5 separate regions of the Homo sapiens genome follow, and all the other regions are linked to region 3. Evidence: fine-mapped expression QTL. A gene starts in region 3. Each other region holds a variant in brackets. All regions are shown on one strand. Distances are from middle to middle. Region 1 overlaps TASOR2 (transcription activation suppressor family member 2). Region 2 overlaps ANKRD16 (ankyrin repeat domain 16). Region 3 holds the start of ANKRD16 (ankyrin repeat domain 16). Region 4 overlaps FBH1 (F-box DNA helicase 1). Region 5 overlaps FBH1 (F-box DNA helicase 1).

Evidence for each region. PIP is the estimated chance that this variant, and not a neighbour inherited with it, causes the effect.
Region 1: its variant is fine-mapped to the expression of ANKRD16 in prefrontal cortex (BrainSeq, PIP 0.95).
Region 2: its variant is fine-mapped to the expression of ANKRD16 in whole blood (INTERVAL, PIP 0.91).
Region 4: its variant is fine-mapped to the expression of ANKRD16 in whole blood (INTERVAL, PIP 0.98). The same link has a PIP of 0.9 or more in prefrontal cortex.
Region 5: its variant is fine-mapped to the expression of ANKRD16 in lymphoblastoid cells (GTEx, PIP above 0.99).

The regions. Positions count from the first base shown.
Region 1 is chr10:5,691,018-5,696,017 of GRCh38, reverse strand. The region is part of intron 1 of TASOR2 (transcription activation suppressor family member 2); the gene reads right to left. Among named protein-coding and RNA genes, the nearest start is that of TASOR2, 8.7 kb to the right of the region's middle. RefSeq lists a silencer at 3,125-3,354. The variant C/T (reference allele first, on the strand shown) is at 2,164.
Region 2 is chr10:5,858,379-5,863,378 of GRCh38, reverse strand. It overlaps ANKRD16 (ankyrin repeat domain 16), which reads left to right. Exons shown (of 8, transcript NM_019046.3): 8 at 688-1,763. It also overlaps the pseudogene RPL12P28. Among named protein-coding and RNA genes, the nearest start is that of TRV-TAC3-1, 7.1 kb to the right of the region's middle. RefSeq lists enhancers at 193-322, 523-592, 893-942. The variant T/G (reference allele first, on the strand shown) is at 2,631.
Region 3 is chr10:5,887,310-5,892,309 of GRCh38, reverse strand. It overlaps ANKRD16 (ankyrin repeat domain 16), which reads left to right and starts at 2,417. Exons shown (of 8, transcript NM_019046.3): 1 at 2,417-3,269; 2 at 4,243-4,463. The coding sequence starts at 2,956. FBH1 (F-box DNA helicase 1) reads right to left here and starts at 2,067. Exons shown (of 21, transcript NM_178150.3): 1 at 1,964-2,067. The coding sequence starts at 1,964. RefSeq lists silencers at 1,635-1,684, 1,875-2,594, 2,735-2,844, 2,855-3,134.
Region 4 is chr10:5,911,933-5,916,932 of GRCh38, reverse strand. FBH1 (F-box DNA helicase 1) reads right to left here. Exons shown (of 21, transcript NM_178150.3): 7 at 3,094-3,186; 8 at 2,664-2,755; 9 at 1,362-1,530; 10 at 477-699. Among named protein-coding and RNA genes, the nearest start is that of FBH1, 24 kb to the right of the region's middle. RefSeq lists an enhancer at 1-42. The variant T/C (reference allele first, on the strand shown) is at 2,521.
Region 5 is chr10:5,931,495-5,936,494 of GRCh38, reverse strand. FBH1 (F-box DNA helicase 1) reads right to left here. Exons shown (of 21, transcript NM_178150.3): 20 at 1-39. Among named protein-coding and RNA genes, the nearest start is that of IL15RA, 44 kb to the left of the region's middle. The variant C/T (reference allele first, on the strand shown) is at 2,478.

The DNA of each region.
Region 1 (5,000 bases), 200 kb after region 3:
CCGTCAAGGTAGAGGAGAGAGTAGTTGTCTGGGTGTGTGGGAGTGGAGAAGGGGTTCCAGGGTATCAAAATGATAAAGACCATCAACCAACCCTTCTATTCCCACCCCATCCTGTAATTCTTGACTTCAGAAGTCCTGTACTTGATACCCCCAATTCCTAAAACTTTTCCAGATTCTGTGGAAAGAATCTGCTTGCTCCTTGCTGGGTTACCTCTCTTCAGCTTTCAGCATTCTCTAATTCATGAAATCATTTATTACTTGCCCATCTCCTTTCTAGTTTCCCAAATACTGATTTCAGCTATATCTTCCTCTCACCTCCTCTTGATCTTTGTGGATTTATATCCTTATTCTTTTACTATAATCTTAAGAGAGACTTCCAAAGAGTGTATACAATTGAACATGTTAGACTAAAAGTGTCTACTTAACCTGTCTTAATTTCTACCATTAAAAAATGATGCAGCTACCTCCTACAATGGTAGCTACTATTGCCATTATTTTATATTTTGTGTAATTATGAAGACCTCATTTTACTAATGCACCCACCACAGCCCTAATTACACACCAAATCAATACATACTAATTTAAATAATTAGCTGTTAGTGTATATGTATGTACTCAATAGTCATTTACTCAAATGCATAAAAAGCACAATCTAAAGATCTTCAATGATATTATCTCAAAGCATCCTGTCCTTTTCTTGCATGATTTATAATTACATATGTGTAGTTTCTTCATTAATGTCATTTTCCTTAATGAGCCAAGCAATATCACGGCAGGAACCATATCTGTTTTGTTTACTACTGATTACTCAGCATCCAGTCCAATTCCTAGCACATAGTGTTTAGTAAATATGAATTTGGTAACTGAAGAATAAATAATACTTGGCTATTTAATCTGTTCCGAAACTCAGAAAAAGAAATGAAACTTCTCAATTGTTTTTACAAAGCAATCAGATGCGAATACCAAAACTAGACAAAACACATTAAAAAACAACAACTATAGACTGATCTCTTATGAATATTGATATAAAAATCCTAAATATATGCATTGGCAAAGTAAATCCATCAGGACATTAAAATAATAACAGATCAATTAGGGCTCATTCCAAGATGCAAAAATGGTTCAATAAATAGTAAATCCATAAATTTAACCATACTAATAGGTCAAAATAAAAAACCACAAAGGGGCAGCTGGGGTCTGGGATGGGGGTAGGAGAGCCACATGTCAGACTGTCAAAAGGAAGTTACTATATAACGTTCACCAGATGCTTTGTAACATGCAAATTTTTGTTGCTGCACAGTATTTCTTCATTTATGCATGCTATTTTTTACCATACTTAATCCAAAAACAAATTAAGATGCCCCCAAAGAAAACTATTTAGTAACAGTGAAAAATGTCCTACCATAAATTATTCAGGAGAAAGTTCCAAAAGAAGTATATGTGTAATATACCATATCTTAAAGAATATAAACCACAATTTAAACAATGGTCATCTTCTGCACACTTATCAATATCTGGTATTTTTTCTTGTTTATCTGATTGTCCTCCAACCACTAGATTAGTTTCATGAATACAGGGCTTTGTCCTTTTCATTGTTGTATGCCAGTGCTCAGAACAGTGCCTGTTATACAGTAGGGTTTCAATAAATATTTACTTAACAAATTAATCAATTAGTTTTCCAGATCACTTTATTTCTAATTAAAGCCCCTCAGTACCCTCTCACTGCCCTCAGAACACAAAACACACCCTCCTGGCCATGGACAAGTAAAATTTGGTCCCTGCCAATTTCCTATACCTCATCTTGCTCTACTTTTCCCTGACTTACTACTGAGTGGCAGCTACATGGATTTTTCTTTTTATAGCTTTTTCCTCTTTTAAGGCCTTTGTGCATGCTGTTATTTCTGACCAGAATTCTTTTTTTTTTCTCCCCATTCCTCCCATGGTTGAGCTCTTTCTGTTCCTTTAGTGACATCTATTTAAGTCATCCACTCAGATAAACCTCGGATTACCCTGCTGCAAGTGTTTTCTTTAAAGCATTAGAACATGGAATTATTATAAATTTACTTTTTGGTGGGTTGGGAGAGGTCTATTTTCCCCAGCAGAATGTAAGGTTTATAGAGGCAGGCATTGTCTGTTCACCAAAGTCCCCAGGGTCCAACAGAG[C/T]TCCTAGCACCACAGTAGATAATCAAATATTCTATGAAGTTATCTTTGGATGGGACAAGTACAGGTAGTTTTTGCTTTACTTTTTACAGCTTTATATATTATCTGAAATTTTAAATAAACATAATCTGGGTGAAATAAAGCTATTTCCACTTTGGAAAAAAGATCTCCTGTAGTCCTAAGTAGCAGCCAGTTATAGTTGTGGTTTTGTGGGGGTTCCCCCCTCCTCCAGGGATGAGGTTGCCCAGGTTGGTCTTGAACTCCTGAAGTTACAGGTTTTTTTTAAATGAAGAAAATGTAGAGAAAACAAATAGCATTTCCCGTAAGTCAAAACAGAGACCCAGAAAACAAAGTGACCCTATTAAAAGCCAAAAAATACAATTTGAGAAATACACAATTTTCACAGAAACTTAAACATTCATTAAAAAATTTCTTGCCACATACGAGTTTAAACCAAGATAATCACGGCACGCACAAAGGGAGTAAAAACTAAGGTAATAACCTGCAAATACTTGAAGCGCAAAGTCAATGTGCAATCCCTGTTCTACATTTCAAAAGATGACCTTAGCTATTGTAGGTTTACATAGGCACACACACAACTAGCACCGTCTCTCTGGCGGTTCTGCAAGGGCTCCACCACTACCACACACAATCCACTCACAATCAGGAGTGAAGTTAAGCCTTCGGGTACCATACAAAAGTGTCTTTCATCACCAGGGCTCTGCTGCGGGGCCTCACTGACCCTGCCAAAGCTTCTCTCCCCACACCCTCACCAGAAGGTAAAACGTTACTAGACAGAATAGGCCCATTTTCTCGGGTCTCCTTCGCACTCAGCGCTGTATTAACAGTCACCTCCGTGGGTGAGCCCGCCCCAGGCACAGCGGGGGTCAGAGCTTCCCACAACAGCATGTGGGAGACCTAGGCCCCTCCCCGACTCACCTCATGGTGTGTTGGGGAGGGTGGCTGTGTCTCTGCTCCGCCGGCAGCCCCTCCGGCCCCCTCCCGCCAGCCAAGGCCAGTGCGCCAGAGCGGGGAACTCCGCGCAGGGCGTGCTGAGCGTGTAGGGCGCGGGGCCGGCGGCGCCTTTTGAAAGTCAACAAGGGCGACGCCGGCTCCGCGAGCGGAGCCCAGGGGCATGGCCCTGACTCGGCGCCCACGGACCCCACAGAACGAGGGGATCCCTGCAAACCCCACTGAGCCCGTACAGCCAACAGGGCTGGGAGATCCCCGCACACTCCGTAGACCCAACGGAGCTTGTAGCGGGTAGGGACTCCACACACCAGGGAACCCTACAGAACCCGCAGGACCCCAGGACCCTGCAGACCTGGGCGGGCTCAGTCGTCAGAACGGAGCACAGGACAGCAAGCCAACTGCCCCCGAGTTCTTGGACGTCACACAGTAACCCCACTAGGAGGATGGTTTTAGTATTATTTTACAAAGCTCACTCCAAGCTCCAATTTCCTTAAGTGTCCTACCCGCAAGCCCCTAGTAAGGATATCTATCAATCTCAGGTCTAATCTAAAATACACGTTCTTTTCACTACAGTGATCTCAAGTTATTATAACTCTTCGTCCCACATCATTTATGCAGCCTCACCGGCTACAGTTTGATGCAGCTTTTTAAATTTACTATGTAGATAATAAAAAATGTATTTATACATGTCACAAAATTAAAAAGTCATAATGAATATGGCTTTTTTTTTTTTTTTGAGACAGAGTGCAGTGGCACAATCTGGGCTCACTGCAACCTCTGCCTCCTGGTTTCAAGCGATTCCCCTGCCTCAGCCTTCTGAGTAGCTGGAATTACAGGTATGGGCCGCCACGCCTAGCTAATTTTTGTATTTTTAGTAAAGGCGTTTCACCGTGTTAACCTGGCTGGTCTCAAACTCCTGACCTCAACTGATCAGCCCGCCTCTGTCTCTCTAAATGCTCAGATTACAGGCGTGAGCCAACATGCCAGGCCTGAATATGGTTTTTTAATACTTCACATAGCTTCAGGAAAATTGATACCAATGCCTGGGGTAGGGATGAGGTCCCTTCCCAATAAGCCATGCAGCCCTAACAAAATTTACGAAAAATTTAATCAAACGGAGGTGCAGGGGGAAGATGAAGTGTTTGGCCTGATCTAAGGACATCTTTACTCATTATGTTTTAACTAAGCAATCTAAGATACCCACATGCATTGCCCAGAAGAAAGCCTAATTAGTAGATCTTATTCATCATTACCATTAGTGTGTTGTATAGCATATAGGATAATTTGAACTTATAAAGCAAGTTAAATTCATAAACAATTATGTAGATTAACAAAGAGCTATTCAAAATAAAAAATTCACTAAGGTATTTAGTATATCCAGTAGGAGACAAATTACCTTTTTTAAAAACTTTTTTTTTGGAATTACACCCCTTGAGTAAAGTGTATTACACCTATGTACTATGACTTTTTCATTTAGCTGTGGCTTGCTTATTTTTGGATTTAATATTCAATTTTTGAAGATTGTTTTAACATTCTCAAAATCCAGTCTACCACAAAAAGTATTTTTGGTAATCAGGCTGATGCTTATAAACACCACAATTTTTTTCCTCCTACATTATGTAAAAACAACAACAAATTCTTTAGAGACCATACTTTTTATATTCAAGATCATATAACTTTCTTTTTTTTTTTTTTTGAGACGGAGTCTCACTCTGTCGTCAGGCTGGAGTGCAGTGGCGTGATCTCGGCTCGCTGCAATCTCTGCCTCCCAGGTTCAAGCGATTCCCCCACCTCAGCCTCCCAAGAAGCTGGGACTACAGGCATGCACCATCATGCCCGGCTAATTTTTTGTATTTTAGTAGTGACAG
Region 2 (5,000 bases), 29 kb after region 3:
CATTTGACCCAGGAAGTCCAGCTGGCTTCACCTCTCAGTATGAACCTTTAATATGAGCTCTGCCCTCTAACTTTGTGAGCGTACAGCACAGTAACATTCACCTCAGGCCCAGTGCTGCCCACCCATCTGGAGGACTGATTCTTCTGGCACAGGGGAAACTTGATCTGAATTGAGAGCAGCTCCCCCTTCCCTCTCCTGTGGGATCTGCATGTCTCCCAAGTTCCACAGTAATGCTGGTGTGGACACTGCGTTGGGGAGGCCTCGTGTTGAAAGCCCATGGAGTCAGGGACGTGGCAGGATCACTGGCTGTATAGCAGCAGCTGAGGGTCCCTGTCCTGCAGTTTTCTCCACCACAGTCAGCTGCTCCGGGACAGTAGGTGGAAAGTCAGAATTCACTAAGATGGGGACTTTTCCAGGCAAACAGAGCAGAAGGGTCATTTAGCACAGTGTCTGGTACAGGGGAAATGCCCAAAACACACAGCTTGTTACTATCTAGCGCCAGCCTCCCCTTCCCTTCTCCCTTCCAACTGCGCATGGGACTCTCCCTCTCTGACTGTGCAGCATGTAGAGCCAGGCCCTGTAGCCAGCAGCCCTGAGTCCAGCTGTGGGACCTTGTGCTAGCTGCTTGCCCTCTCTGAGCTTCTGTTTCATCTGTAAACTGAGATGATAATAACTCTTTCTTCACAGAGTTGCTGGGAGCCTGAGCACCTTTCGTTTTTCGGCTCAGAGAAAGCCAAGTGCAACTTGCTTCAGTCATCCTGAACCTGAGTTCAACCAACCGCAGCCACCTACGTTTGACCCCAGCGAGATCAAAGTTGTATATCTGAGGTGTACCAGTGGTGAAGTCAGTGCCACATCTGCACTGGCCCCCAAGGTCAGCTCCCTGGGTCTGTCTCCAAAAATGGTTGCTGATGACATCACCAACCATTGACTGGAAGAGTCTGAGGATGATAGTGAAACTGACCAGCCACAGCAGACAGGCCCAGATTGAGGTGGTGCCTTCTGCCTCTGCCCTGATCGTCACAACCCTCAGGAACCACCGACAGAAAGAAAGAAACACAAAAACATGAAACACAGTGGTAGCACCACTTCTGATGAGATTGTCAACATTGCCTAACAGATGCAGCAGCAGTCTTTAGCCAGAGAACTCTCTGGAACCATTAAAGAATTCCTGGGGGCCGGTTGCGGTGGCTCATGCCTGTAATCCCAGCACTTTGGGAGGCCGAGGCGGGAGGATCATGAGGTCAGGAGATCGAGACCATCCTGGCTAACGTGGTGAAACCCCGTCTCTTACTAAAAATACAAAAAAATTAGCCAGGCATGGTGGTGGGCGCCTGTAGTCCCAGCTACTCAGGAGGCTGAGGCAGGAGAATGCTGTGAACCCTGGAGGCAGAGCTTGCAGTGAGCCGAATATGCGCCACTGCACTCCAGCCTGGGCAACAGAGCAAGACTCCGTCTCCAAAAAAAAAAAAAAAAAAAAAGAATTCCTGGGGCCTGCCCAGTCTGTGAGCTGCCATGTTGATAGTATCACAGATGATACCAACAGTGAAGCTGTGGAATGCCCAGCTAGTTAAAGAATGCAAAGGAAAATATTTTCACAAAGGGTTATCTGATAACCAAAAAAAAAAAAGACATTTCATCTAAGCCACTTAACACCGTGTCTGATGTGTAGTAAATAATAAATGTCAATGATTCTCAAAGAACCCAGGAATAGAAAAAGCATTTAATAAAAATTAGCTCTTGGCATAATCTCTTCATCCACACCCAGCAGAGTCGTCAGATGTCTTCCAGGTTCACAAGAATTAATTTCTCCGCCCCTGTTCCTGCTTTGCACTTTGTAGCAATTATCCCATGGTTCGCCTTATGTTAGAACTATTTATATAAGTGGTAGTCAAGGCCACTGAGTCATGCATCCCTGGAGGTCAGTTACTATTTCTTTTTATGAGTCAGAGTCACTCTGCCGCCCAGGCTGGAGTGCAGTGGTACGATCTCGGCTCACTGCAACCTCCGCCCCCTGGGTTCAAGTGATTTTTCTGCCTCAGCCTCCCAAGTAGCTGGGATTACAGGCTCCCACCACCGTGCGCGGCTAATTTTTGTATTTTTAGTAGAGACAGGGTTTCATCATGTTGGCCAGGCTGGTCTCAAACTCCTGACCTCAGGTGATCCAACCGTCTCAGCCTCCCAAAGTGCTGGGATTACAGGCGTGAGCCACCGCACCCCGCCTGGGTCAGTTACTGTATCTTACGCACCTTACAAACCCCAGAAGGCTGCACACAGCTCCTGCACATGGTATGCCTTCAAGGAATTACCCATGGATTTGAATAAGGTTATATATGATGTAACACTCATGCGCTTTATTTCATTTTTAATGAGTTTATATTCTAAAATATTTGCTTCTGGGGAAAAATAATTCAGACAGTACAAATAAAGATTATTCCAAATAGGATCATATAACACTCTTGCAACTTTAAACTGAGTGCATTGTTTCTCATTAGTTCTTTTTGTTTTGTTATTTTCATTTTCTCATTAGTTCTTAAAGATCTACCTCATTCTTTTTAACTTTGCATAATGTTGCATTCTTTCTGACATTCCATCTTTCAGATGTGCCACAATTTGTCTAAGCTGTTCCC[T/G]ATTTCTGGACATTTTAGGACATTCTGGGGTTGTTTAAGTTATTATAAACAGCAGTGCCGGACACATCTTTGTGTCCTTATGGGAATGACTGGAAGATAAATTCCTAGAAGCGGATCAAAGGATCTGTCCATTTTTTTAGGTTGCCAACTGTATCAGCTACAGTTCAGTTAGCAGAGACTAGCGTTCATTGGAGCCAGCTTATGCAGAAGATTTGTTACGGGGTCCTGATGGTATGCAGAATTGTCAGGAAGGCTCGAGAACAAATCTCGTTGAACTTTCAGGGACGATATCAAGGGCTGTACTTCAGACCTAGGCCTCAAAAAGAAGTGCCTTTTCAATCAGGAAAATCTTTGCCAGTATAGGAAGCTGCTGCCTTCGCTTCCAACTCCAGAAGCTTGCTGTCTTCATCTGCTACAGTCGAGAGGCCAAATGATCAGAAAACACTCCACAGAAAATCACTTGCAGCCTTTGCCAGTGGAAGCAGAAATACGGCTTTCGCTTCTGCTTTCCGAAACTCAAGCAATTAGCAGAATCCAACTCACATCTCAAAATCTGGACCTAGGGGAGCCTGGGGCATGTAGCTGGTAACTTCCCTGTGTCTGCAGTGTGGGGCTCACATGCCCAGGAGGCTGGGATGGGTCTTGAGCACCACAGACATCGCTTTTGCCAAGATTCCTTCCCAGGCATACCCATCACCAAAGCTGTGTGGTATCGCACTTTTTTTTTTTTTTTGAGACGGCGTCTCACTCTCGCCCAGGCTGGAGTGCAGTGGCACAATCTCAGCTCACTGCAACCTCCATCACCTGGGTTCAAGCGATTCTCCTGCCTCAGCCTCCCAAGTAGCTAGGATTATAGGCGCACACCACCACTTCCAGCTAATTTTTGTATTTTAGTAGAGATGGGGTTTCACCATGTTGGCCAGGCTGGTCTCAAACTCCTGACCTCAGGTGATCCACCAGCCTCGGCCTCCCAAAGTGCTGGGATTACAGGCGTGAGCCACTGCGCCTGGCCACGGTATCACACTTTTAATGGCCACTAACATGATGTACTATCTCATGATTTTAATTTTGCATTTCTTTTTTTTTTTTTTTTTAAAGACAGGGTCCTGTTCTGTTGCCCAGACTGGAGTGCAGTGGTGTGACCATAGCTCACTGCAGCCTTGACCTCCTAGGCTCAAGCAACCTCGACCTCCTAGGCTCAAGCAATCCTCCCTTCTCAGCCTCCTGAGCAGCTGGGACCACAAGCACGCACCAGCTCGCCCAGCTAATTTTTAAAATTTATGTAGAGATTCCACTTTTATAGGGGGGTCTCACTGTGTTGGCCAGGCTGGTCTCGAACTCCTGGCCTTAAGCAGTCCTTTCACCTTGGCCTCCAAAAGTGTTGGGATTACAGGCATAAGCCACCACACCCGGCCTTGGCATTTCTCAATCAGATTGAAGATCTTTAGATTTGTTTTTTTGGCCATTATAGCCCTTTTTCCTATTTTTACCTGTATCAGTTAGCTGTTACTAAATGACAGACCACCCCAAAGCTCACTGGGTTGAAACAGGAGTCTGTAGGGCATCTGGGTGGCTTTGCTGCTCGCAACTGGGCTCACTCCTGCGTCCCGTCAGCCAGTGAGTTGCTGAGCTGGTATAGGATGGCCTTGGGTGGATCAAGCTGGCTCTGCTCCCCATGGTCTCTCCATTCGGCTAGCCCAGGCTTATTTTTCATGACAGTGGCAGAGATTCAAGAGAGAAAAGAGACTTAAATGTGCTTTCCAGTCTCCGCTCTGTTTGTGTAGATGCTTCCATCCCATTGGCCAAAGCAAGGCATGGTCATGCCCAGAATTAGTGTAGGGGGCAGAACCCACAGACTGGACACAGAGGCCATTGATTGGGGCCATTAATGAAACCAGTTCTTGCTTCATCTTTTGACCATTGTTTTGTCTTGTTGATTTGTAAGAGTCATTTTTATATTGGGTAAATTAGCTCTACACATAATTTCAAATAATGACAAAATTTGGGTTATACATTTACAAGTAAAAAAAAAAACAGACTACAGCACAGCAGAAATAATCTCCTTTATAGCTCCTTTAAAAAAAAAGAGCTCTTGTGAGTAGATACAGGCATACACAGGCACTCACTACAATGCTGGGAGTGGGATGGCACAGATTCCTTGGATATGATAGGGTGTTTCTATTTAGATTACAGTATGTGGTACCTTTAAAGCAGCTCTCAGAGTTCTAGAGCTTCCACCTGTGCCAGCCTACAACATGCATGGTCTTTATTTTTCCCAGTGTTGCTGAAAATCCACGATTAGCTAAAAGGTAAATGAACGCAAAAGACGTAGGAACAAAATCCAGCTTGTGGCTCGTCCTGTCCCTTGAA
Region 3 (5,000 bases):
TGGGCATGCTCAACAGCATACCCATGAAAAACAGGAGGAAAAGGAAGGGCAGCCAAGGAGCAAGTCGGTGCCAATGACGACTACATGTGACGTGACTGTAAAGGCCAGACCACAACCTCCAAAAGTCTGCACGAAAGAAATGAGCAGCCCAACCGGAAAACAGCAAGACCCAGGAAACAGCTCCATCCATTAGCTTACTGTTCAGATCCCGCCCCTCTAGACCAAGCTTTTGCCCAGAAAATCACAGGAGCTGCGGGACAGATTCACATACATTATCATTTAGTTATCCAAAGGGGGATACAGAGCAAAGAAGGTTCATAGAGAAGACACAAGAGGCAGAATCGAATGTGCAACACCAATGAAGTAACCAATTATCCTGGGTTCAAATATTCCAACCTGGCTAGGCACGGTGGCTCACGCCTGTAATCCCAGCATTTGGGAGGCCGAGCTGGGTGAATTACTTGAGGCCAGGAGTTTAAAGACCAGCCTGGCCAACATGGTGAAACCCCGTCTCTACTAAAAATACAAAAAAATTAGCCGAGCATGGTGGCACACGCCTGTAATCCCAGCTACTCGGGAGGCTGAGGCAGGAGAATTGCTTGAACCCGGGAGGGGGAGGTTGCAGTGAGCCGAGATCGTGCCACTGCACTCCACCCGGAGCAACAGAGCGAGACTCTGTCTCAAAATATATATATATATTCCAACCTACTGTGAACCCGTGTGTCCCAATTATGTTTAAAAAACAGGGAAACTAGAGACATAATGCAAGAGAAGATAGTCATCTGAAACTGGGAGAGGGGCAGGGGTAAAAGCAAAAAGCATGAAGCTACCAGATGCCTCAACTTCCAATTTGCACTAACTTCAACGGCAGCAGAACACTGCTTGGCACGCCCTACACTTTTGTGCATTTCAAACAACTTTTATGCCTTCCTTTTTTTCTTTTGCTGGAGTGACAAGGCACGACAGAACAATAACCTGAGCAAAGCTGGTACTTGGACTAGTTCTGTCTCCAGAGGCTATCCACATCACTGTTACCTTAACCAAACTCAATCTGCTCATGAGTAAAACGGACTTATCTTCATGGGCCCATTCCAGAAGTCTTTTCATTTATCTCCGCTCATTTTACCACAGCGGCAGACGCTGGCGGACACTCAACACATGCTACCATCCTGCCTTCCAGAAGACTTTATTACCTGTAATTCTGTAAGAAAGTCACTGACTTGGTTAGGCCTCCACTTCCCCACCTGTAAAACCCTACTGATGCCTCATAGGGTTGTCTTCGGACCACAGACTGCAATAAAAAATGTAAACGGCACTCGTTTTTAGGCCTGGCAAATAGGAGCTACTCCCATTCTACTCCCTAAAGGAATCGAAAACATGGAGAGGTTAAGTGACTGGCACCTAATCAGATCGGGTAAGGAACCCAACACCTACTGATCTCTTCCATCACCCACAGCCTGCCCAGCTCTCGCCGTGCCCTCCACCAGCGCCAGGCCTCCCACATCGCCTTAGGCTTCCCATGCTCAGAGGAGGGGCAGAGAAGCTACCGATGACACAGGGGCAGAGGGCAGCGAAAAATGACTTGCCCAAGGTCAAAACGTCAGAGTAGACGGGAAAGCCTGGCCTCCTAGCAGCCGAGGCCACGTCCCCGCGCTTGCCCCTTCAGCCCCGAGGACCCACACGCTGCGCCTTCCTGGCCTCGGGGGGCAGCGCGGGGGCCGCTCCCGACCGAGTTCAGTGAGCGCCCTGGCCTCCCCCGCGCACCCCCGCCGCGCCCTCCACCTGCCCACGGCCCGGACGGCCGAGCCCCCACGCCCGCGCTTGCCCGAGCCCAGCCTCGCGCCCCCGGGGCCCCCGCTGCCCCACCCCGGGCCCGGACCCCCCGCGCAGGACCCCGGAGGTTAAGTTTTCCACACGGCGGAGCCCCTCCCACACTCCCTGCCACGTCTGCGGCCTCACGCACTGTGGCGCTCCGGACCCGGACCCCGCTGCCGCCGCCGCCGGGCCCGCGCCGCCGGCCGCTCAGCCCAGCGTCCCCCGGCAGCGAGCTCCTCCTCTGGCCGGGACCTGGAGCCCGAGACGCCCGCCGACTTCCTCCGCGAGCTCCGCCCCGCCGCAGCCCCGGGAAGCGCCCGCCGCCGGAGCCGGACTGACGGCCCCCGCGACCAATCGGGACGCGAGACCGGAGGGGGCGTGCTGACGGACGGCCACTAACGCCAATCGAAATGCGCAATCGGTGGGGGCGCGGCCACAGCTACCGGGCCACGCCCCATCCGCGCTTCCGCTCGGGCCGGGGCGGAGCGGGAAACTTTCCCAGAGTTCCTTCGAGCTCCCCGAGTCCCCGCGGAGCAGCGGCGGTCGAGGGGCGGGGACGGGGGCGGAGCCCAGGAACGCCGGCCCCCAGGGGCTGGAGGCTGGGGCGGCCCTGAGGACGCGTGCGGGGCAGGTCACGCTTGGGCCTGGCTGCCTCAGGAGCCACCCTGCACGGCGCCGGGCGAGGCTGTGCGCGCCCTCCCGGACCCTCCACTTTGGGGCTTTGCGGTGTAGCGGCGCGCCCCACTCCCTTACGTGTTCAGTCCCGAATCACGTACGGGCCGCTGCAGCTCCAGGACGGCGGACGCCAGCGCTCTCGGATCCCCAGGCCCCTCCGTGCTCATCCCGGACCGCTCCGTCCCTGAGGAAAAACCGCCCCGTGCCCGGAACCGCGGCTTCTCCCACGCGGGGCAGGCCGGGGCTGTGAGGGGGCAGCCCGCCTGCGGACTAGGCCGGGGGTTTGAGGAGGCGGCTCTGCCGGGGACAAAGCCGGGGGCGTGAGGGGCGGTTCTGCCGGGTTCGGGGCGCGCGGGGCAGGTTGCGTGAAGAGGCGGAAAGTCCCACTCGCCCTCGGCTTCTCCCTGCCCGGCCGCCGGTGTCCCGCCCGCCGCCTCCCCGCGCAGCCCGGCCCGACCCGCGGCGATGGCCCAGCCCGGGGACCCGCGGCGCCTCTGCAGGCTGGTGCAGGAGGGCCGGCTGCGCGCCCTGAAGGAGGAGCTGCAGGCGGCCGGGGGCTGCCCGGGGCCGGCCGGGGATACCCTCCTGCACTGCGCCGCGCGCCACGGGCATCGGGACGTGCTGGCCTATCTGGCCGAGGCCTGGGGCATGGACATCGAGGCCACCAACCGAGACTACAAGCGGCCTCTGCACGAGGCGGCCTCCATGGGCCACCGAGACTGCGTGCGCTACCTGCTGGGCCGGGGGGCAGCGGTCGACTGCCTGAAGAAGGCCGACTGGTAGGTGTGGAGCGGAAAGACACCCCGCCTCCCCTCTACTCGCAGAGTCGTAGCGAGTTCCCTGTGCTTCTCCGTCCCCTTGGACACCGTAGCTGTTCTCAGCTCCTAGTTCTCACCCCAGGCCTGCTCAGCGGCAGGGACCTCCTGCCCAACTTTCCCTTATAACGCAGATGACCTGCAGAGTCCCTCGTTCCTGCCCTTGTGGGTTAACTGGTCGGGGCAGTCACCTCCCTTTCTAGAGCACGGAATAGTGTAGAATATAACCAAAGAGAATGTTACCAAACAATGAAGTGTGTGCACTATACAGATAGCCTCCGGATGCGATGTTCTGGGGACATTTAGCTAAGTTACTTCTGCACCAATGCATTGTTTCAAGTGGCATTGCTCCAATCAATATCCAGAATTCCTGAGTTATACACGCGCTCGTGTGTGTAGAGCACAGTGCAGTTGTATCACATACGTGCAGCCTTGCATAACCACCACAGTCAGAGATACTCTGCTCCACCATCACACAAGCCAATTGCATTTCGTTTGTTAGATTGACACTGATTTTAGTACTCACTAGGTCAGGTTCGTTAGAGGGCGTGAACATCTTTAGGAACATAGGGAAGTACATCTTCCCCACTGGGGCAGGGGAATAGACTTCGTTATGTGTTGAGGGTTGTCTGTGGGTTTTCTTAGCTCTGCTCCAATTCACTGCTATCCTGTGAACTAGCTTATAAGCTGCTTTGTCTCCCAGGCACCCTCTCCTCTAGGTACACGTTCGTTACAATCATTTTCCCCTTATTATTTCTCCCAGGGTCCTCACAGAAGGCACAGAGGTTGCCGGTCAAAGCTGTTTTCCTGCCTGCCAGACCCCTGAATCCTCTAGGTTTTCCATCTGTGCCAAGGATGTGTGTGTTTTGAAGACCTGGCCCCTGGCTTCTAATGTCTCAGCTGCCTCCATCTGACAGCTTCTCCTGGTTGGCCTTAGGACTCCTCTGATGATGGCCTGCACAAGGAAGAACCTGGGGGTGATCCAGGAGCTGGTGGAACATGGCGCCAATCCACTCCTGAAGAACAAAGATGGCTGGAACAGTTTCCACATTGCCAGTCGAGAAGGCGACCCTCTGATCCTCCAGTACCTGCTCACTGTTTGCCCAGGTGCCTGGAAGACAGAGAGCAAAATTAGAAGGACTCCTCTGCATACTGCAGGTACAGCCTACAGCTCTGCAGGTGAGCAGTACACACATGTGGCTGCTTCACCCAGCACTGCCCAACCGCATCTTGTTCAGGTCACCTTCAGGGGAAAGGAGGATTTTGGAAAACAGAAGGCAGAGAATAAGAACATCTGGGGGGGAGGGGGTGGGGGCGGGGGCGCGGGTGCAGTGGCTCACGCCTGTAATCCCAGCACTTTGGGAGGCCGGAGGCGGGTGGATCACCTGAGGTCAGGCGTTCAAGACCAGCCTGGCCAACATGGTGAAACGCCGTCTCTACTAAAAATACAAAAAATTAGCCGGGCGTGGTGGCGGCTGCTTGTAATCCCAGCTACTGGGGAGCTCCAGAGTCTGAGGCAGGAGAATGGCTTGAACCCAGGAGGCAGAGGTTGTACTAAGCCAAGATTGCACTACATTACACTACAGCCTGGGCAACAAGAGCAAAACTCCATCTCAAAAAAAAAAAAAAAGCATCTAGGGGCCTTTTGGCATATAATCAATTTCTAAAGTTAACATAACTTGGCTAGCATGCTGT
Region 4 (5,000 bases), 25 kb before region 3:
CATGTCTGCCTTCTCTGTTAAATGGGAGGACTATTCCGAGGCTTAAGTGAGATGGTCACCAGTGTCCTTCACAGGAGAAAATACCCAACAATTCACAGCCATCACCATGGGCCTACAGCCTCACCCTCCCACCTTCAACCTCCTATGACCAGGTCTGAAGAAATGAAAGAAGAAATAATGCTGTCCCACACTCCCTGTTTGCCCATCCTCAGATCCCTAACACTTCCCGTTCCCCCATCCTCAGATCCCTAACACTTCCCCTGATCCCCCATCCTCAGACCCCTAACACTTCCCATTTCCCCATCCTCAGATCCCTAACACTTCCCGTTTCCCCATCCTCAGACCCCTAACACTTCCCCTGTTTCCCCATCCTCAGACCCCTAACACTTCCCCTGTTTCCCCATCCTCAGATCCCTAACACTTCCCCTGTTCCCCCATCCTCAGATCCCTAACACTTCAGACACTTAGACACTCACCAGTTTTTCACTCTGCTCAACCATGACTCTCTGTCCTTGGCTGTTCTTACACCAAATAGGCACGTGATCAATGGTCAGCTCTTCGTCAGCCGAGGCAAAGAAGTTTTCTAGAGTCTTACACACAAGCTTGGCTCTTATGAATCCACCCTTCCCTTCAGCAAGGACGGAGTTGACCATGAAGGGTGTTAACTTGAAGAGATTCAACTTCTTCTTTGACTGGTACCTGCAATACCCATCCCAAATGAACAGCACGTGGCTCTCCTGGCTTGGTGCTATTGAACGTCCCCTCCATTCTCTCTAATGTCACCAGGAGGTAGCTTCAAGTGCCACACACAGGCGAGTGTTAATGTTTTAAAGCGAAAAAGTTCTGCATGGTCCATGTCTGACTGGAAATGGCTTTCAGGACTCACATGTACCAACCCAGAATAGGAACCAGCTTTCGGCAGACACTGCTATTCCACCATGAAGCTGGGCTCCAGAAGGTCCCCGGAGGGACCCTTGGAGTTCCCTGATGCCTCTACATCCAGGAGACCTGGGTCAAGTGTGCCTCGGCTGAGTCTTCCTCACTCCCTTCCAAGAAAAGCCTACAACTGATCAGGATTTGTGAGACTCTGAACTTTAAGCAAGTCATTTTGACTTTCTGTGCCTCACTTCCATGAGAACACCCCTCTTGGCAAGACGGCATTATATGTAAACAATATGTTGCTACAGGATAAAAGTACAAATGGCTAAACCTATGTATTTGTTTCCTGCCTGTAAGTGGAGATAACAGCACTACACTCCTCGGGGTCACTGTGGTGTAAGCTCACATGTGATCGTCACGGGAAAACAGTAAGACGCGACCGTGCCAGCAGCAACAGTGCCACTAGTGACAGCAGTACTCACTTCCGCCCTATGTGCCCGTAGGCCATGGAGTGGAAGGTTTTGCAGATGACGTTGCTGGGGAAGACGCGTTCGGCCTGCTTTGCGATGCTCTTGTTGAATGTCACATACAGAAACCTGCTCTGAGACCACTTCTCTGCATACTTGACCAGCGTTGAGGTCTTCCCAGTGCCTGGGGAAGCCAGGAGGAAAGGAGGTGACCCTCTGACCAGACAAGACATGCCCAGGGATCCCCAATCAGGCCTTGTCCAGGCTTATCACACCTCTGTCTTGAGAGCAGGACAGTAACAAGTTTTTCAGTGCTGGTAAAAGTAGTGCCACCAAAAGAGCAGCAGATTCAAAGCCAGGTGAAGGTGGGCTGGGATCTCAGCTGGGGCAGGCTCCAGCCGAGGGGCAAAGGACAGGTGGACCCCTTGACCTCATGAGCTTCAGTTTGCTTCTCAGAAATAAGTGGGTATCCATTAGAGGTAGGGTTCCCGAGGGCAAAAAGGACCCCTCAGGATAGGAGGGTAGGGTTAGGGAGGGGGAAGGCATGTCTCTGGAGAGAGACAGGTCCAGCTTTGAATTCCACCTCCACCACCTATCCACTTATTCAACCCCGGGCAAGGCTCTCTGTGCTTCAGTTTCTTCCTCTATAAAACAAGAATAACTAAGCAACCTTACGGAATGCTATCAGGATCAGCACAATGCCAAGCACACTGCAGGCATTCAAAATGTTGTTGTTGTTGTTAGCAGGGTATTTAGCCACAAAAGGAGCAGGAAGGGATTACAGGCAGAAAAAAAATAGCAAATAGCACGAGCAAAGGCTGTGATGAAAGAGTAACCAAGTACTTCAGGAGGCTGTGAGTGGATCGGCGTGGCTGACTGAGGCAGGACACTTGTAGATAATATATTTATGAATGTAAGTTAAAAGCCAATCTAAGGCAGGCCCTCTAGACATCACCCTATAAAACTGGGGAGCTCCTGAAACCCTGGGCTGGGGATTAACATGCCCTCCCTCTCCAGAAGCAATCAGTGCCTGAGCAAACATCACAATGCTGGGCTCAATCCCGGGGGCATCTGCCCGACCAACTAACTGCTGTGAACTACCTGTCTCAACAGGAATTCTGTGGATGTTCATGGAGTGGTCCGGGGAAGTAAGTATTCCTTGGCCAATTGCTTT[T/C]GAGATTGATTATTTGATCTGTTATTGAATTATTAGTTGGATGACAGATCAGAGCAAAGATGCCCTGGCAGGTAGCGGGAAGGGGATGTAGGGAGAAAAGGCAGAAAACCACCACCTCGTGAACCTGATGTGGGCTCCCTTACCGGCAAAGGCCATAATTTTCACCACCTGGAGAGGTTCCATCTTGTGATTCAGAATCAGCTGTTGTTCATGTGTAAGTTGGATGGTTTTCTTGCTATAATCATTACAAAAGAGAAGTAAGAAAAACAGAAAGACGTGAAAAGTCCAGGGGATAGACAGTCCAAAAACCAAACATACAAACTGGATAAACAAAAGCTGACCAAAAAAAAGGCCTCCCCTTACGAGAATAAACATGTTCTAAAGCTAGATTATGATGCTGATGCACAGCTCAGGCAATGTCACTGAATCACACTCTTAGGATGGGTGAGTTTTACACAATTTACATTATTAACCTCAATGATGTTGCTAAAGTGAAGCAAAACATCTCCCTCCTTAAGTATGAGGAAGAGTCGACAGAAGACAAAACACACGCTGACGCACATATACACATACCCTGGCCAGACAGATGGCTCCTCTTTAACTTTTGTGGCCTGAGTGCAGGAATTCTCCTGAAGATATAGGCAATAGAAAATGTTGTAGTGAATCCTACCAGAAAAAAAAGTAGATTTAGAAAGTCTCAAATTCAAGTCACAATCTGCATCTTATTTTTCCTCAGATGGATTTAAACTCCTTCCCATTTCTAAAAAGAAAATACCTACCACCATTTAATGGAAAAAAGAAAGAAAAGGATTTAAATATATCTATGGCTGGCAAAGCATTCTCAGATAACACAGTCCTGGGAAAGGTGTAGTTTCTATGTATATCTCCAAGAGGAGGAAGAGACCAGGACGGGCTCTTCAGGGAATGAGGGGCGCCAGCTGTGACTTGAAGAGACAAACAACCTGAAAAACTGTAAGGACCAGTGGAAGGCAAAGGGAAACACTGCTCCTAGCACTGAGACTCTTGTTTGAATGATACTTACTACACCTGTGGATAAAACACCAGCCTCTTTCTGAGCCTCGGTCGCTCCACTGTCTACCTCTTATGACATGACATTGCTTTAGACGCATGAACACATTCTATCTTTTAAGGTCCCAAGAAAAGGGACTACACTATGGATAACAAGATCTGACTACTAAGGACCTGAAAACAGTAGGCTCCAAGTCACCAAGAGGGACCAAAGATGACAAAGTTCAATCAGCAGAGGCACAGGACATCGTCAGACTCGTCAGACTCAGCTGGCACACGCCGTTCCAAAGCCTCTCCAAGTCTCCCCTGGACTGTGGGGGAGACCGGGGGTGAGCTTGGACTCGCTCCCCCAACAATCGAGTGCACTGCCCCCCATCCCCAGAGCGAAAAGAGCCCATCTCCAAGCCTCGACCTCTCCAATGCAACAAATACCTTTAATAATCCAACATTTCAGATGTGATTATATTATCTCCCAGAAAAAACAGGAAGAAACAAAGAAACGCAACAAAAATCAACATACATACTGCCATGGACTGAAGTGTGTCCCTTGAAATTCCTGTGTTGAAGCGCTACCCCAATGTGGTGTGTGGAATAAGGAAGTAGTTAATGTTAGGTGAGAGTACAAGGGCAGGGCCCTGATACACAAGAATTGGGGTCCTCCTAAGAGGAGACGCCAGTGTTCTCTCCACCCTGTGGGGATGCGGCAAGAAGGCAGCCATCAGCAAACTCTTGGACATTTCTGGGGAATCCTGTCCCCTCCTGGTACCTTGCCACCGATGCCTGGCCACCACTCACTCCCCTGGTGCCACTAGCCACCTTCCTTTAAGGGCTTGCAACTTCCAGGGGCCAGTCTCCCTGGGGAAGGGACCCCCCTCCCCCGGCCCCCAGCCCCCACGGTCTCTGCTTCTCCAGGATGGCTGCACAGTTGATCTACCTGTCCCCATCACTCCAGCTCAGGGACAAGGCCCTTCCCAGCTGCCCAGCAAACCCTGAGTTTTATTCTACATTTTTTTTTTTTTTTTAGACAGAGCCTCACTCTGTTGCCCAGGCTGGAGTACAGTGGCATATCTCGGCTCACTGCAGCCTCTGCCTCCTGGGTTCAAGTAATTTTCATGCCTCAGCTTCCCGAGTAGCTGGGATTAGAGACACGCACCACCAGAAATTTCTGGCTAATTTTTGTATTTTTAATAGAGATGGGGTTTCCCCTTGTTGGCCAGGCTGGTCTCCAGCTCCTGGCCTCAAGCGAACTGCCCGCCTCGCCTCCCAAAGTGCTGGATTACAGGTGTGAGCCACCAAGCCTGGCCTTATTCTACCTTCTAATCGGGGCCTGTAAGATCCCTCAACTGTCCCTGTCCATCCTTCACAATCTTGTGTTCCCTCCCACCCTTGCCACACTGCACTTTTTCTCTTCCTCACATGTCCCAAATTCATTCCCATCTTCAGGCCCTTAA
Region 5 (5,000 bases), 44 kb before region 3:
TAAGACGTTGCTTGTCAGCTCTGCTTGCAAGAAGTACTCCTGAGAAAGAAAGAGCGAGAAAGAGAGTCATGGCGACACCTCCGTTAGGGTCTACTGGAAACACTGATAGCGGCGGCTCTGTGAGAACCCTTTAGATGCACTGTAAGTCCCAGAGAGAAAAACCCCGCCTAACCCGTTCTCCCTTACTTCCTCTAACTTTTCCCTGCCTCCAAAGCTATCGACAGTCCAACTGACAGTCCAATTGCTTTTTAAATATATATATATTTAACAGATAAACATGCAAAACTATTGCCTGTAATGACATTTCCAGAATATTTCTGGATTTTATTTTATGCTAAGGTATCCCCAGCTCAATCTTCAGAAAACTATTGTGTATTCACATTATAAGCCAGGCAGGCAACACAGAGGACATGAAGAAAACTTGCCCCAAACATCCCTGCGTATTTCCACCGTCCCGTGCTGCTGGCTGTGCTAGTGAGCAAATGACAGCCTCGCTAAGCCTGTGTCTTTATCCATAAATGCAGATGGCACGGTGCCTGCTTCAGGTGGCTGCTGAGGAGAAGAAACCCTTCAATGCATGCAAAGCACTCACGCCTGGCACGCAGGGAGCACCCAGAGGAAGCACTAGTGACCTCCCAGGCTGGAAACACCACAAGGACAGGGCACTGTCAGCTTCGCTGCTGCCCTGTGGGGCTCCACATCACAGACTGATATGCTAGCAGGACCGCACACATCTGCTGCCCAGGAAAGGACGGTTTCGTATTTTCTGGATTATGACCAGCTATTGATCTACTTATTCTACAATCTGTAACCTACGTTTTGATTTATTTGGTCTTTTCTCTTAGACGGCCTGCCTACCAGCTATGAAAAAGAACAGAAAACCACCAGGCAAACACTCCAGTTATGGCCAACAAGTACTAACAGCTGACGAGGTGAAATCCTGTCTGAAGTCACAGATTTTGCTGAAGTCCCTTGGACTGTCATCTCAATTTCCTTCCCGAGAGACAGCCAAGACCATGAACCTGGCGAGGTCCCTCCAACCCACGGTGAAATAGCTTCTCGTTTACACGTGTCCAAGGACACAGGTCTCCTTTTATAGATGTCTAATTTACATGAATGTTACGCTTCTGGCTTCCTCCTCACCTAGGTTTTCTAAAATGCTGTAGAGGACTCAGTCACAGCGCTCTCTTGTATTTCATTTACCCATTCCCTTGCTGTGGTTACTCGGTTGTTTCCAAACTATTTCCAACAATGCAGCAATGAACATCCTGTACCTGACTCCCTGTCCACTCCAGAAGTTTCTCCAGGGCTAGGCTCTCAAGCCGTTTTTGACGCAGTTACCATTATAATGCTATACATACGCACATATGTAAGAAACACACATGGAAGAAAAGTTTCACAAAACATGACTTAACCTAACATGCAGTGTTCTCTGATTTCTTTAGATTTTATGCCATTTAACTCTTTTTAAGCCTCTCATAACCCACCAGATTAACTGTTTTTATTTATATAAATTTAAGGGGTGGGGGTCACACCTGTAGTCCCAGCACTTTGGGAGACTGAAGTGGGAGGATCACTTGAGCCCAGGAGTTCGAGACCAGCCTGGGCAACATGGCGAAACCCTGTCTCTACCAAAAATACAAAAATTAGCTAGGCATAGTGGTGCACACCTGTAGTCTCAGCTACTCGGGAGGCTGAGGTTGCAGTGAGTTGAGATCGTGCCACTGCACTCCAGCCTGGGCAACAAAGCAAGACCCTGTATCTAAACAAATAAACAAAAAGAATCTAAGATTCTGTGAGACCAAGAAGCTGTCTTTGGCCAGACATAGTGGCTCAAGCCTGTAATCTCAGCAATTTGGGAGGCCAAGGCAAACGGATCACTTGAGGTCAGGAGTTTGAGACCAGCCCAGTCAATATGGGTGAAACCCCATCTCTACTAAAAATACAAAAATTAGCCAGGCATGGTAGCACACGCCTGTAATCCCAGCTACTCTGAGGCTGAGGCCTGAGAATCGCTTGAGCCCGGGAGGTGGAGGTTGCGGTGAGCCGAGCAAGATGGCACCACTGCACTCCAGCCTGGGCTACAGAGAGAGACTCCATCTCAAAAAAAAAAAAAAACAAAAAAAAAAACCTGTCTTTGAAACATAACTTCATGTCACTTAACACCTCAACAATGTAATAATTTCCTTCACTTTCCCAAAACTTAAAGAAACAAATGAACAAAATGGCTTCTGGTGATTCTATTAGCTATATTTTCTAAGGGGGAGGGGTCAAAGAAAAAGAAGGTTGCCCTACTCTTGGGAGATAAAGGGGCTTATCGTTCTAGGCAGCGCAGGAAGCAATGGCTCGCTTTTTATCTCCAAAACACCCCCGTCCGTGGCTCCACTATTTTTAACACGCTTTCCTAGCCTCTGAATTACTGCCCAACTCGGGATCTTCATTATCCCCATGGCCTTCCCTCCTGGGCAGAGACTGGA[C/T]TCGACACTTCTGAAACAGGATATCCCCAAATTTATTCACAGGCTGTGATCAACAACAACAAAAAAGGCTGGACATGGTGGCTCACGCCTATAATCCCAACACTTTGGGAGGCCGAGGCGAGTGGATCACTTCAAGTCAGGAGTTTGAGACCAGCCTGGCCAACATGGTGAAACCTCGTCTTTAACAAAAAAAAAATACCAAAAAAAATTAGCCAGGTATGGTGGTGTACACCTGTACTACCAGCTACTTGAGAGGCTGACACAGGAGAACAGCTTGAACCCAGGAGGCCGAGGTTGCGGTGAGCCAAGATCACACCACTGCCCTCCAGCCTGGGCGACAGAGTGAGACTCTGTTTTTTAAAAAAAAAAAAAAAACAGCAGAGTGCCTCCACTTCTAACAAGGTCTTACAGCCTTAAAAAATCTGTTCCCACAAATAGGCAGTTTTTCTGGGACTTCCTCGCAGGACCCCTGAGGGCAGACAGCCCACCCCAGTCTCAGTAATGGGGAAGTATTTCTCTAGATTCTGTATTCTTTTCTTCTATGGGGAAAACAAAATGCATGCAGCAACCAACTGACAACCTTCCAATCAGCTTTAAAAAGTCTACTTCACTTTTTTGTTTGTTTGTTTTGAGACAGAGTCTCACTTTGTTGCCCACACTGGAGTGCAGTGGCACGATTTCAGCCTACTGCAACCTCTGCCTCCCGGATTCAAGTGATTCTCCTGCCTCAGCCTCCTGAGTAGCTGGGATTACAGGCATACGCCACTACACCCAGCTAATTTTTGTATTTTTAGTAGAGACAGGGTTTCACCATGTTAGCCAGGCTGGTCTTGAACTCCTGACATCAAGTGATCCGCCCTCCTAGGCCTCCCAAAGTACTGGGATTACAGGTGTGAGCTACTGCGCCGGGCCTATTTCACTCTTATGCATACAACTGGTGGGACTCTAAAGTGATAACAATCTCCATGAAAAAATTGGCAACATCTAGAAAAGTCACACTTGGCCAGGTGCAGTGGCTCATGCCTGTAATCCTAGCACTTTGGGAGGCTAAGGCAGGGCAGATCACTTGAGCTCATGAGTTTGAGACCAGCCTGGGAAACAGACAAAACCCCGTCTCTACAAAAAATACAGAATTAGCCAGGTGTGGTGGCACACACCTGTAGTCCCAGCTGCTCGGGAGGCTGAGGTGGGAGGATGGCTTGAGCCTGGGAGGCGGAGGTTGCAGTGGGCCAAGATTGTGCCGCCATATTCCAGCCTGGGTGACAGAGCCAGGCCTTGTCTCAAAAACAAAACAAAACAAAACAACAGAAAAGTCACACTTGCATTTATCTTTACCCAGCAATTCCACTTCTAGAAATGCATGCTGAAGATGCACTGGCAAAAACAGAAATGACCTGTGCACAAGATTGTGCAATGCAGCATTATTAATGAAAGCAAAAGGCTGGAAGTGACCACGTCCATGAGCGAGAACGGCATAAATCACAGTGCGTCAACACAGAACACTATGCAGCTGACCAAGAGGCGAGAGAGCTCTGTGAGCTGATAAAGAGGGATTTCCTAATTTGGGTAGGACAACAAATAAAAGAATAAAAGGGCAAAAAATAAAAGAGTAAAAAATAAATAAAAGAGTGATTCCCATGGCTTCTAAGTGACAAAGCAAAGTACACAACAGTGTATCTGAAATGCTACCTTCTGTGGAAAAGGAGAATATGAAAATACCTACGAATTTGCTAATACTTGCATAAAGAAATACTGAAGGATTAATCGCTAATTGTTTAAAATAACTACCAATGGTGGAGGCAGAGAACAGTCTGAAGTGAACAGGGAGGTAATGAGACTTCTCTTATCACAAAGTTTTGATCTTTTCTTTTGAGACAGGGTCTCACTCTGTCACCCAGGCTGGAGTGCAGTGGCACAATCTCAGCTCACTGCAATCTCCGCCTCCTGGGTTCACGCGATTCTCCCACCTCAGCCTCCTAAGTAGCTGGGGCTACAGGTATGCACCACCATGACTAGCTAATTTTTCTGTATTTTTTGGTAGAGACAGGGTTTTGCCATGTTGGCCAGGCTGATCTCTAACTCCTGACTTAAAGTGACCTGTCTGCCTCAGCCCCGCAAAGTGCTGGGATTACAGGGGTGAGCCACTGTGCCCAGGCGCAAGGTTTTGACTTTGAAAACATTAACAGGCCTTACACATCAAGAAAGATCATTAAATCAAAAAGAAGCAAAGCAACCCCTGTAGGTATTATGAATAAACTACATGTCTAACTGCAAATTAAGTTGGTAATAAAACCACAAAAGCAAAAAGGACTTACTTTAAGTGACTTCAGAACATGATATTTTGACTAATAAATACATCATTCATGGAGAAATGGAGCTGTTAGGAAATCTTCAAGTCCAGTCAGTATTCCATTAATACTGGCATTATTTTGAATATTATTTTTAAATACATAGAATAGTATCAATAAGTAATAAATACTATTAGGAACCAAGATTTCAGTGTATGAGAAAAGATTCAAGTGT